Regions from separate parts of the Homo sapiens genome. Here region 1 is linked to region 2. Evidence: fine-mapped expression QTL. A gene starts in region 2. The other region holds a variant in brackets. All regions are shown on one strand. Distances are from middle to middle. Region 1 has its middle 2.3 kb from the start of GIPC3. Region 2 holds the start of CACTIN (cactin, spliceosome C complex subunit).

What was found.
Region 1: its variant is fine-mapped to the expression of CACTIN in whole blood (TOPMed, PIP 0.93).

The regions. Positions count from the first base shown.
Region 1 is chr19:3,581,749-3,584,654 of GRCh38, reverse strand. No RefSeq gene overlaps it. Among named protein-coding and RNA genes, the nearest start is that of GIPC3, 2.3 kb to the left of the region's middle. The variant G/A (reference allele first, on the strand shown) is at 1,377.
Region 2 is chr19:3,625,256-3,628,161 of GRCh38, reverse strand. CACTIN (cactin, spliceosome C complex subunit) reads left to right here and starts at 1,372. Exons shown (of 10, transcript NM_001080543.2): 1 at 1,372-1,566. The coding sequence starts at 1,400. RefSeq lists enhancers at 1,039-1,408, 1,298-1,859, 1,860-2,421, 2,422-2,906.

The DNA.
Region 1 (2,906 bases), 44 kb after region 2:
GGATTACAGGCATGAGCCACCACGCCCAGCCTTTGGTTTGTTTGTTTGATTTTGGAGACGGAGTCTAGCTCTGTCGCCCAGGCTGGAGTGCAATGGCGTGATCTCGGCTCACTGCAACCTCCACCTCCTGGGTTCAAGCGATTCTCCTGCCTCAGCCCCCCTAGTAGCTGGGATTATAGGCGCACACCACCATGCCTGGCTAATTTTTGTATTTTTTAGTAGAGACAGGGTTTCACCATGTTGGTCAGGCTTGTCTCGAACCCCTGACCTCAGGTGATCCACCTGCCTTGGCCTCCCAAAGTGCTGGGATTACAGGCGTGAACCACCGCACCCGGCCGCATTCAGTTTTTTAAAATTTAATTTAGAAACATGATTAATTTTTTGTACAGTTGGGATCTCACTGTGTTGCCCAGGCTGGTCTCAAACTCAAGACCAGGAGGTTCAGGCCATCCTTCAGCCTTGGCCTCCCAAAGTGCTAGGATTACAGATGTGAGCCACTGTGCCCAGCTTCTCTTCAGCATTTAAAGCTACCATCTGACATATCAGATATTTTATTTTATTTTATTTTTTGAGACGGAGTCTCTCTCTCTTGCCAAGGCTGGAGTGCAGTGGCACGATCTCGGCTCACTGCAACCTCTGCCTCCCGGGTTCAAGCGATTCTTCTGCCTCAGCCTCCTGATTAGTTGGGATTACAGGCACCTGCCACCATGCCCAGCTAATTTTTTTTGTATTTTTAGTAGAGACGGGGGTTTCACCATGTTGGCCAGGATGGTCTCGAACTCCTGACCTCAAGGAATCCTCCCGCCTCAGCCTCCCAAAATGTTGGGATTACAGGCTTGAGCCCCAGCCCCCTGCTGATATTTCATTTCATCTTTTGTCCTGTTTGTCCCCAGGACTGGAGGAATGTCAGCTCCAGGAGGGTGGGGGCTGTTCCCCTGCTCTGTCCCCATGCCCAGTGTCCAGGGCACAGTGCCTGGCATACAGCAGGTGCCCAGTGATCTTTGGTGAGGAATGAACGGATGTCCAGGTCACAGATGAAGGAGGAGACCCCAGGCACCAGGAGGCGTTGGTAAAAATCCGCTGGAGTGCAATGTCAGAAACACCTACGTATCCATCAGATTCCTACCCAGGAATGTCGGCTCAATAAACAGCCATCCTGCCTGCAGTGGCGGGCCCTACAGCAGAGCCAGTCACAGCCTCCGCCCAGGAGGAGCCTCACAAACTGAACATGGGGAGAGAAAAGAAAGTGGCAGGAGGGTTTGGACGAGGTAAGAAATTTTATGTAAGGCCGGGCACGGTGGCTCATGCCTGTAATCCAGCACTTTGGGAGGCTGAGGCAGGCGGATTGCTTGAGGTCAGGAGTTCGAGACCAGCCT[G/A]GACAACGCAGTGAAACCCCATCTCTACTAAAAACACAAAAATTAGCCAGGTGTGGTGGCGCACACCTGTAGTCCCAGTTACTCGGGAGGCTGAGGCAGAATTGCTCCAACCTGGGAGGCGGAGGTTGCAGTGAGCCAAGATCATGCCACTGCACTCCAGCCTGGACAACAGAGTGAGACTGTCTCAAAAAAAAAAAAAAAAAAAAAAGGCCAGGTCTGGTGGCTCACCCCTGTAATCCCAGCACTTGGGGAGGCCAAGGAAGGCAGATCACAAGGTCAAGAGATCAAGACCATCCTGGCCAACATGATGAAACCCCATCTCTACTAAAAATACAAAAATTAAATTAGCTGAGTATGGTGTCATGTGCCTGTAATCCCAGCTACTTGGAAGGCTGAGACAGGAGAATCACTTGAACCCGGGAGGCGGAGGTTGCAGTGAGCCAAGATCGCGCCACTGCACTCCAGCCTGGGACAGACAAGAGCGTGACTCCGCCTCAAAAAAAAAAAAAGAGAGAGAGAGAGGGATTCACCTGCCTCAGTCTCCCAAGTAGCTGGAATTACAGGCATGCACCACCATCCCTGGCTATTTTTGTATTTTTAGTAGAGACCGGGTTTCACTATGTTGGCCAGGCTGGTCTGGAACTCTTGGTCTCAAGTGATCTGCCTGCCTCGGTCTCCCAAACTGCTGGAATTACAGGCGTGAGCCACTGTGCCCAGCCCACACAGCTTTTTGAATGTACCAAAACCTACTGAATTGTATACTGAAATTTTTTTTAATAAAAAACTGCTGCAAAATGCTATTTTCCAGGCCTGCCTAGAAATGAGAAACTCTAAATTTAAGGTGGTGGTACCTGTGCCAGGACAGGGTGAAACTGGGGTGGGGAGTGAGGGGGGTTGGCAGTATCAGGTTGTCTGACTCGCCCATGATGGCTGTAACAAAGCACCAAAAACTGGGTGTGGTGAGGTGGCTCTTGACTGTGATCCCAGCACTTTGGGAGGCCGAGGCGGGAGGATCACTTGAGCCCAGGAGTTTGAGACCAGCCTGAGGAATAAGGTGAGACCCCATCTCTACAAAAAATACAAAATTAGCGGGGTGTGGTGGCACACACCTGTAGTCCCAGCTACTTGGGAAGCTGAGATGGGAAGATTGCTTGAACCCAGGAGGTATAGGCTGCAGTGAGCTGTGATGGCATCTCTGCACTTCAGCCTGGGTGACAGAGCAAGATCCTGTCTCAACCACAAAGAAACAGCTGGGTGCAGTGGCTTATGCCTGTAATCCTAGCGTTTTGAGAGGCTGGCCCAGATGGATCGCTTGAACCCGGTAGTTCAAGACCAGTCTGGGCAACATAGTGAGACCCCATCTCACAAATACCAATAAATTGACTGGGTATGGTGGCTCATGCCTGTAATTCCAGCACTTTGGGAGGCTGAGGTGGGTTGATCACTTGAGGTCAGGAGTTTGAGATCAGCCTGGGCAACATGGTGAAGCCCCATCTCTACTCAAAATACAAAAATTAGCCAGGCTTGATG
Region 2 (2,906 bases):
GTCTCGAACTCCTGACCTCAAGATCCACCTGCCACGGCCTCCCAAAGTGTTGGGATTACAGGCATGAGCCACTGCACCCCACTCAAGATAAACATTTTAATTTTCTTTTTTTTTTTGAGACGGAGTCTTGCTCTATCGCCGAGGCCATAGCGCAGTGGCACGATCTCGGCTCACTGCGACCTCCGCCTCCCAGGTTCAAGCAATTCTCCCTGCCTCAACCTCCCAAGTAGCTGGGATCACAGGTGCATGCCACCACACCCGGCTAATTTTTGTATTATTTAGTAGAGATAGGGTTTCACCATATTGGCCAGGCTGGTCTTGAACTCCCGACCTCAGGTGATCCGCCCGCCTCGGCCTCTCAAAGTGCTGGGGTTACAGGCGTGAGCCACCGTGCCCGGCCAAGATAAATATTTTAAAAGTTAGCTTAAATTACTATCATCCTCCATAAACAGGCCTTCCCAGCCCCGAGTGGTTAGAACTGCACGGGGTGGTGGTAGCAGCCACCATGGGCTAGGGGAGCTCAGGATGGGACATCAGCGTCTTCTAGGTCTCTGGCCTCCAGCCTTGCCCCTGAAGTCCGTCCTCCCACGCCAAACTTGTTTCAACAGCAAGTCCCCCAAACCCTGCTCACAACCCTCCCACGGGTCCCCAGCACCCACACCACAAAGCTGGGCAGCCTGGGTTGAGAAGGCAAGTGTTAAGAGTGACTTTCCCTCTCTGAGCCTCAGTTTCCCCGTCTCTAAAATGGGTTGATGGGGGAATACAGGGAGTTATCAAAGTTTTTGTTTTTTTTTAAAGCTTAACTCCCAAAATACATAGGTGTTCATTGGCAGGTGGTGGAGCATAACGATGACTCTCATAAGAAGGCTTTTCAGTTTCTGTCCCCGCGCCCGCCCTCTGCCCTCTGGAGCTGCCTGGCACCTAACACCTTCCCGGTTCCTCGCCTTTCGGGGACCTCGCTCCCCGGACACGCCTCTCCTCGGCCACGCCCCTGGCCACGCCAATGAAGCGCTACTTCCGACCTAGACCCGCTTCTTATTGGTCTCGCCTCGGCAGGCCCCTCCCTGCACAAGGTTCCTAGTTTGCCCTTGCCCCGCCCACAGTTTCTCAGGCCCCCTGAGGCGTGGGGACCCGCCTAGGGCTGCCTCCAGCACTGCCTGAAAGGAGACTCCGCCACCCTGGAGGCAACAATCCCACTGGAGTCAATCACGCGGTCCACATTTGCAGACGTAGTGGAAAGTCTGGGGTGTCGGAGTCCTTGCGGGCTGGGGCGACGGGATGGGTTGCTCTTTCCCGGCTCAGGCGCAAACGGGGCAGCCTGGAGAGCGCCGTGGGCGAGGAAGGCCCCCAGCGCAGGCTTCGGCTATTGGTGTTGGTGCCGCGGCCACTGGCCCAGCCGATGGGTCGGGACACACGCTCGCGCTCGCGGTCCGCGGGTCGCCGGGGCCGAAGGCGGCAGAGTCAGAGCGGGAGCCGAAGTCGGAGCAGGAGCCATGGGCGGCGAAACCGACGGCGCCGGGAGGACGAGGGACGGCGCAGACGGAGGCGGCGGAGCCGGGAGCGCAGGTGGGGTCGCTGCGGGAGCAGCGCTGGGGATCCGGCTCCTACCTCAGGAGCGCCCGACCGAGGGTTGGAGATCCCGGGGAACCGGGAAACCCCCGACTTACTCGGGGAGGGCTTCCTAGAGAAGGGGACAATTGACCACCGGTTGGAATTAACCTGGCAGCGGAAGGAAGGCGAGAGGCGTTCCAGGCAGGGGACCGGGCGGTTGGAGGGACAGCCCGGAGCCGGGTGAGCGAGGCGGCGGGGAGGTAACGAGAGATCAGATCATATCATATCGAGCCCTGTGTGCTCAGCACATTAGATCTTGGCTATTAGTCGGAGGGAAATGGAGAGTCTTGAGAGGAGTTTGGGTAGGGGAGTGACGTGGACTGACTTAACTCTGCATACTTTCTGGCTTTGAGGTGGAGAAGGGATGGAGCGGGGTAGGCAGGAGCGGCATCAGAGTAGGACGGCACAATTGTCCAGACAGTAGATGATGGCAGTCTCGATGGGAGGGAGGCTGTAGTCAACCACAGCGGGCAAAGTGCGTAGATTTCAGAGGGATTCTGGAAGTAGAGGAGACAACATTTGCTAATGGAGGTGGGCTGTGGGAGGGAAAAAGACTCGGTGTCAGCTGGCAGGACTCACAGCTGATTCCTAGTGCCTGAATCTCAGCTTCCCCATGGTCCTTTTCTTCTGGAGATGGGGCACTTGGTCGGATTTGCCTTGAGCCGGCTCCAGTACAGAGAAACCAAAATGGGGACAGGGACTGATTCCCAGACCGGGGCCCCAGTGCTGGCTCAGCCCCTTCGTGGCTGACACTCAGGCCAGTCTTGCCCCGCTCTGGGCCAAGTTCACTCATCGGTTGTTGGTTTTTTTGTTTGTTTGTTTTTGAGACGGAGTCTTGCTCTGTCGCCCAGGCTGGGGTGCAGTGGCACGATCTCGGCTGTTACCTCTGCCTCCTGGGTTCAAGCGATTCTTCAGCCTCAGCCTCCCCGGTAGCTGGGGTTACAGGTGCTTGTTGCCACACCCAGCTAATTTTTGAATTTTTTCGTAGAGCTGGGATTTCTCCATATTGGCCAGGCAGGTCTTGAACTCCTGGCCTCAAGTGATCTGCCCGCCTCGGCCTCCCAAAGTGCTGGGATTACAGGCGTGAGCCACCGCGCCTGCCCATAAGTCTTGTTAATGTCATCTTTGTGTTTTTTCGCCTACCATTTTCTGGTATTGGAATTATTCACAATAATTTGCCACTCTAGATATGTAATTAGAATTAATGTTCACGAAAATTCAGTTGAACTTGTGGCCAATATTTAAGGGCTCTGCAATGATTGGTTTCAACATAGTTTAGATTTTTTTGACATGAG